2 separate regions of the Homo sapiens genome follow, and region 2 is reported to be linked to region 1. The links are microRNA targets in miRTarBase. Many come from high-throughput screens and were not tested one by one. Region 1 holds a microRNA gene; the other region holds the end of a gene's coding sequence.
What was found. The annotated mature microRNA hsa-miR-32-5p reads UAUUGCACAUUACUAAGUUGCA and lies in region 1 at 2,784-2,805, opposite strand. An mRNA with a match to its seed (bases 2 to 7 or 8) in the 3' UTR can be bound and repressed. Matches are read on the target gene's strand: a 7mer-m8 pairs with bases 2 to 8, a 7mer-A1 pairs with bases 2 to 7 and ends in A, and an 8mer does both.

Region 2: miRTarBase lists PSME3 as a target of hsa-miR-32-5p. Seed matches in the 3' UTR shown: 7mer-m8 at 2,045-2,051.

The regions. Positions count from the first base shown.
Region 1 is chr9:109,043,489-109,047,984 of GRCh38, forward strand. It overlaps MIR32 (microRNA 32), which reads right to left and starts at 2,810; the gene lies at 2,741-2,810. The region is part of intron 14 of TMEM245 (transmembrane protein 245); the gene reads right to left.
Region 2 is chr17:42,841,212-42,844,211 of GRCh38, forward strand. PSME3 (proteasome activator subunit 3) reads left to right here. Exons shown (of 11, transcript NM_005789.4): 11 at 287-2,549. The coding sequence ends at 367. Among named protein-coding and RNA genes, the nearest start is that of AOC2, 1.9 kb to the right of the region's middle.

The DNA of each region.
Region 1 (4,496 bases):
AAATATCTGCCTTTTCTTGGTTTTCTGGGACCTTTTTCTTCAGTGATTCTTCAAAGATTATTGACAGTTGTTCTTTAATTTTAGTCCAAGCTCTCCTAGCACTCAATAGTTGATGAGAATCAAACTCTGGAGGTTCTTTTCCTCCCTCCTTTTGGTAGCTCAGATGGACGTGATTTAGCTCAATGGAAGAAGAGACTGACACACCAGCCACTGAGCTAGAGGCACGGTTTTCTAACAAGGCCTATTCCCTATTCATAGACCTCCCATTACTACACAGTCTTAGAGATGTTCTCCTGTCCCATACTATATATAGACTATTATAGAGCAGGATTCCTGTCCATTGGAAGGTAGGCCATCGTGCATCCAATCCAGCTATGCCCCACCTAAGCATACCTCTCTGTGGAATAAAAGTTCCAAGAGTTAGTTAGGATCAGCTTTTTCTCAGCTAGGATTTTCCCCTAATAAAGCCTACTGTATATTTATACCGTATGGCACTAAAGGTGTGAATATCCATGCCTCCTTTACACAACTATATTTAATAATAACTCCTCTGCACCAGAAGCTTGAATTGACTTCAAATGATTGTTTACAATGTTAACTCTTCCTAACCAGCTCTTGATCTTCATCCTTTATAAATCCTAGGATGAAACTTACTTTTTCACACGTTTCCTGATACTTAACTTTAGCTCTCAACCCTCTCTTTTCTGACAAACCAGATTGTGCTTGCTACTTTTCTAAACTGAGTAAGAAAAAAATAACAAGACAATTCAGGATTTAATCAGATGACCTGCTTTTAATGGAATGATATTTGAAGCAAGGAGTGGGATGGGGAGAATAACAAACCAGTCCAGAAGCTCTATAAACTCAGTGTACACAGGGCCTTAGACCACAGCTGAGTAAGAATTACCTGTCTAAGGAAGAAGATAAATAATGAAGAAAAGGAGGAGTGAAGAGTCCAAAGTGAAATTCTGCCTCCTCCACATTTCCTTACACTGGTTCCACCCTCTTTTCTAAAGGACTGTCATTCCCCTTCCCAGTATTCTAGCCTCACTGCAATATGGTATGTCTCAAGTAGAAAGTGAGCTGGTGGGAGAGACCAGTCAGCTTTTAGAGACACAGTATATACAATAACCAGTGGGAAAAGTACTCGCCAGCTCCCTTGACTGCTCTCTACATATTTATGGGGTACATAATAATGTTTCAATACATATAATGTATAGTAATCAGATAGGGGTAATTGGCATATCCATCATCTTGATCATTTATCATTTTGGTTTTTTTTTTTTTTTTTGAGATAGAGTCTCACTGTCGCCCAGGCTGCAGTACAGTGGCATGACCACAGCTCACTGCAACCTCCACCACCTGGGTTCAAGAGATTCTCCCACCTGAGCCTCCCGAGTAGCTAGGACTACAGGTGCATGCCACCAAGCCCAGCTAATTTTTGTATTTTTAGTGGAGATGGGGTTTCTCCATGTTGGCCAGGCTGGTCTTGAACTCCTGACCTCAGGTGATCTGCCCGCCTTGGCCTCCCAAAGTGCTGGGATTTGAGGCGTGAGCCACCGTACCTGGCCTCATTTCTTTTGTTGGGAGCATTCTGTATCTTCCTTCTAGCTACTTGAAATGATATAATTTATTGTTGAACTACAGTCATTCTACAGTGCTGTAGAACATTAGAACTTATGCCTTCTAAGTAATTTTTGTATCCTTTAACAAATCTCTCTCTACCCACCCCTTCCCAGCCCCAACCTCCCTTGAGAGGTCACATCTTCCCTTTCTTGATTAATCTGCCCTGGAAACCCAGCTCCACAGGGTGTCATATAGCAACCTGGCTGACATTAGATTTCCAGCATGAGGGGAACGGCCGAGCTGCTGAAGGGCACAGGGGATGAGCTGCTTACGTGGAATTCTTCCATTCTCACCCTCCAAAACAGTGGTGAAACACAGAAACATACAATGACAGCATCACAATAGATCATCTGGAGGCTATGGTAGTAGTAAATATTAATTCAATATTTTCATACAGTAATACATGGTTTTGTGTCCTTGACAATGCCTAGTGATTGTGGATGCTTACTCTAATGCTAACTAAAAAAATAACAAGGGGTTGTTTCAATTACATAGGCAAATAGTAAACGTGTATTTCAAAACTAGTTCCATTATTAGCCCACTAAAATGAATTTAGCAGTTTTCGAAGCATCACAATGAGAAAGTAAAAGACACATTTTTAAGGTAATTTACCTTGGAAACTTAAGTTTATGAGATGAATCTTTCATCAGGTAGGTTAAGCATACCTTTACTGTCTTGATTATTATTTAAGAACTCCAGTTAATTTAATTTCCCCAAATATGCATAAGAGATTTCTGCTTCTCTATTCCAGTGTTGGGAGAGATTTCTTCAAATAAATGAAAATACATTTTCTTACAGCTTTACATTCTTCCTTATACATTTAAATATTGTTTATACTCTTAAATCAATGAGAATTTGTAATAAATATTTCATTTGCTCAAAGTAAAAAATGGAAACACTGATTTACTAAATGATCATTGCTGACTTTTTTTAATCCAAATACTTTTAATTCTCCAAAATTGGAAGGTACCGATGGGAAGCATGTTCACTTTCCAAATGAGAATCGCATGGCATACACACTGTCTTATCTAATTCATCAGGACACCCACCCACTGGCACTGAAAAGCTGTAATCCCAGCAAGCAAGAGCCATACCCGTGTGCATGCACTCATGTGAAAATATCACACACACTAAATTGCATTGAGGCCGTGACAACATGCAACTTAGTAATGTGCAATATCTCCACCAGAGCAAGCAGAATGGGAGCATCAGGGAAGAAGGGTGTGATGTATACATTCAGGAGACAACATGCTGCTGAAGAGAGGAAAATGGTCTGGGGATAAAGGATGCATGCCACTGACTCAAAACTTCATGAAATGAAAACCCAATTGCAAATGTATTCAACTGAGAAGAATACTTATTCAGAATCAAAATAATGAGTAAGGTTCAAAACTTCAATGAGATAGTGATCATAAAGAAACCACATACTTCAGAAGGCAAAGCTTCACGAACAGACACTATCACTGTCTGGTCATGCAATTAACCCCCAATTTCAATTCCATTTTTGACTTATTCACAGATCATATAAATGAATGTAATGATTTCCACTTAGCTGCAACATAGATGATGATTAATGACTGATGCTTATAAAAGTTGGTATCACTGATATTTGTAGGCTAAACTGCACTTTGAGGACATTACAATATTTTCATAGTCATTCATAAATTATAAATAACCACTTATTTTTCCCTCAAAATCTTTTTCCATGAAGAAACATATTGCCTCTTCAACACAAACCTTCAGGATGAAAAATCCAACAGGAGCTCTTAGAAAGAGAACTCACTACCATCTTCTCCACAGGAGAAAGCTCTTCAGAGGAATCTCTGTAAAATCTGTACATTTTAAGTCTTGAATTTGAGCCAGTAAAGAAACAGCCCTAGGAACTTAAACTGCAAAAAAAACACCTTGAATTATAGCCTTAAAATTACATAACTTGATATAGCTTTGGTTAGAAAAATGTCTCAGGCCATAACCCATTCTTTAGTCTGTACCATATTTATCAGACTCATAAAAATCTATCAATTCTGAGAACCATTAGATTATAGTTCTGGTACCAAAGGTTGTTAAAATTTTTTCTGTATTTAAAATAAGGTGATAATAAAACAAATGGTTTTTAAATGCCAGTATACTATGGAACCAAGACATAAGCTACTGTTATAATACATAATTAGTGTATGCACTCCCAAGAAGGGAAGTCGAATCTAATTTGTAAAAGACTGATTTCCTCATATCGCTGTAGATGACAGCACTCTTTGTAATCTCAAATTCTCTCCTGAGCCAAAGACCTGAATTTCTAAATGCCACCCTCTTATGTCCACAAATATAAGTCATGATCTTCCCTAACCAGCTCCTCTTGAAAGAAGGCATCATGGTGTAACAGAGTATGTGCTTTCAATCAGCTGAACCTAGGTGTGACTAACAGCTTTACTTACCACTGACTGGCAAACACAACAGCTAGGAATTAAGTTTAAAACAAAAAAGGTGGCATATTTGGTATGAAAAAAGGTGACAGACATTTAGAGGATGGTCTGCTGTAAGAAAGCAGAACAAGAGAAAATTCAAAAGCTGTGATGTGAAAATAGAAACATTTTTCTAAGAATAAGAGTCAGTAACAATGAAGATTACTTGAGGAAAATGGAAGCATCATCTTTCTTGAAGTTCTTTATGAACAAGGTAGATATTTTTCTGCAAAGCTTGGCTTAAGCCACACTGACTGGAGAATTCCTACCAGCCTTTGATATGGCTGCTACAATAAATAGCTTTACCCCACTGGGAAGATAAAAGATTAGCCTTCCTTTTTGGTAGAGCATTTGCAAAAGCTTTTCTGAGTCAGAAAGATATCACCTAGATAAACAAAAGATTATCTATTG
Region 2 (3,000 bases), not on the chromosome of region 1:
TGATGTATATCAAAACCAAGTTTTTTTTTCATTAACATTGTAACAAAATGACATCGAACAAAATGATGTTATTTGAAACCAGGTTATTTGAGGACCTTCTGTACTTGATTTGCTTACCTGCTGTACTTTAATTTCCTTCAAGTCGCAGTTGCTAAGAACCTATTGATGACATTAAGGACTTACCGTATGCAGATGATTGCTTGGGGATTTGTGAAGGGGTCTCTCATTTTCTTGATGAGGTAAGGGTTGTACAGATATGTGATTCCCCTGATCCCTCTTCTCTCAGGTCACTCTACATGACATGATCCTGAAAAATATCGAGAAGATCAAACGGCCCCGGAGCAGCAATGCAGAGACTCTGTACTGAGGCCAGGGCCAGGGCCAGGGGACTCTGTGAGTCTGGCTCAAGACCGACATTGCCTTGGTTTGTTACATGACTATCGTGATGGGGAAACTGGCTGGAAATAGTAATCACACCTCTCTGTTTTTAGTTAGAGTCTAATGAAACTCTCATCTAGTTCTGTGATGTGTTTACCTCTTTTTTCAGGCCTCAGGAACTCTTCTATTTCCTTCCCTAATACCCCACACCCAACCTGTCGTAATTTCTGGAGAACTCCAGGTTTGTGTGTGCAGGATGTTGGCACAAAAATACCTGTGTTTTCATTCTCCCCCTCTCTCCCTCCTGTGTCTTGCGCTTTATGTTTTCTTCCGTTTGATAATTAGTTGGTTAAAAGCTGAGGGAACCGGAAGGAAAGTGCTAGGTGTTTTTTAGGAACTAGGGTGGCGGGGGGACGAACTTCTCTTCCTCACATGAGGTTACTGTTTCTTTCCTCTGTGGGGCATTGGATCCTCCCACAGTTGCCCTGGTGATGACTTAGGGCTTCCCATCTGTGTACATCCCACTTTGAATCTTGATCGTGACAAGAAATACCTTAGGCCTTCAGTCAATTCCGAAGCTCCTTCAGTTGTTTTTATAATGGGCGTTTTCACATGCACATATGTGTATGCATGTATACGCCCATACAGACATGCACACACAGACTCCTACTCCATTAGCTAACATACCCTCCCTCTCCACAACCCCTGTCACATACCTTTCAGGAGGTGACAGTTGTCTTAGTTGTCATCTACCCAGACAAACGTCCTGGGCCCGTCCTCCCTCCTGATACTGTAGCCTCTTGGTACCCAGGGTGAGTTGGTGGAGAACAGAGAGATGAGAAGCAGAGGGCTTGGGGAAAGCCTGTTCCTCTCTGACTCAGCCCTTTTTGGCATTATTGCAAGAGCTTGACTCCTGGTTGCCTTTTCCCAGCCAGTTTTCAGTTGGGGTGAAGGTTTCTGCAAGTGTGAGGTCCAGATGCTGCTGCTCATGTTGGGCTTTCCTTTTGGGAACTATTTCTCTTTATTTATAGTGTCGGGCTTCCGGGGAAAGCAATCATTGGTGTGTATGTGTATGTGCATGCACACACGTGCATATACACATTTGTGTATGTGGAAATGTGCTGGGCAAGTCAAAACTATAGAAGAGTTGCCTCCTGTCTCTCGAATCTTCCAGAGATATCACTTAATTGTTAACAGCTTTTGTGTTAATCCCCTTCAGCCCCTAGCTCTTTTATTCTACCACGGCTGGAGAGTTGATACCTGCAGTCAGCCTGCCAGTGACTCTTAGTGTCTGTTTCTGACTTATTTTTCCTGTCTCTGTCTTCCAACCCCCAATAATATTTCCACCGGGGATGCATCATTTTTACTCCCAATATTCTGTAGAGAGGGAGTCAGGATGCTGTCTTCCCACGAATAGTACTCAGTAACAAACCAATTGCATTTTAGTTGGGCAGTGCTCCCACCCACCCTCCAGATCCCTTCCAGCTAAAACCCTTCCCCCTTCCCTCCATGTGTTTCTCAGTTTCCCGTTTCGTTTGTTGGACTGTTCCACTGCCCCTCCTCCTCACCCTATCACCCATGGATCGTAATGTAAAATTCTTTTACCATGTCAAGAAATTATTAAAAATACAGGTACTTTGACCTCTTTCTAAAGCCGCAGACCCTGGTGCAATGCTCTGGTGGCTAGGGATGTACTCATGCTCATATGTGTGCACGCTTGGACACCCACCTCCATGGACACCTAGCCACCCTGTTGTGTGTCCTTATGCCAGTTGAGCTGAATCTTTTCCCCAGTATAGTGGAAAGACTGAGGCTTCTGCCTACTGAGCAAGGTTGGGTGCTTCATTTGTGTTCAGTCTGAATTATGGGAAAGTTAGCTCTTCCCAGACCTAAGCTGCCTTCTCTCCCTACTTTCAGAAGATCCTAGTTCCTTCCTTCCCGAGTGATACCCATGAACTGCCAGTAGAGGCTGCTATCGTTCCATGTGTAAGGAATGAACTGGTTCAAGGCGCGTCCTACCCAGTCATTTTCTTTACCTTATACTAATTCTTCCTGAATAATGTCTTCAGTTTCTTGAGGAGACTCCTAGTTTTGGTTTTCAAATTACTTGGAGGGCTGCCTAGGAATCTATCTCCCTCTGAAATAAAGTTTCCTCATCTTCCACCTTGCAAGTAGCCTTCTGGTTTCCAATGATCCCCTCGTTGTCTCTGTAAAAAGAGTTTAAGGTCTTGAACAATGGAGGAGCAGCTGCTCTGTTCTGTTTCAGAGATGACTACCAAAAGCTAGCGGTTTGTGAGTGCCTCCCCTGTGCCAGGCTGTTAAGTACCTAATGTGCATGATCACATTTAATCTTCAGGAATCTATAGGATAGTTGTATCTATTTGTTACAGATGAGGACACTGAGACTCAGGATAAGTATTTCCGCTAAGGTTACACAGCTGAGGGAACTGGGATTGGTGGACAAACCTGATTACTAAGCCCAGGCCCTCAGCCACTCCACTGGTTGGAAATGGCCTGACTACAAATCAAGGGCTTGGCATTAGGCAACAAGTAGAATTCAGTGCTTACTGCTGAACATGGCAGTGAATCCTGGAGCTGTTGGGATGCAGTTCCTGCCAGGAG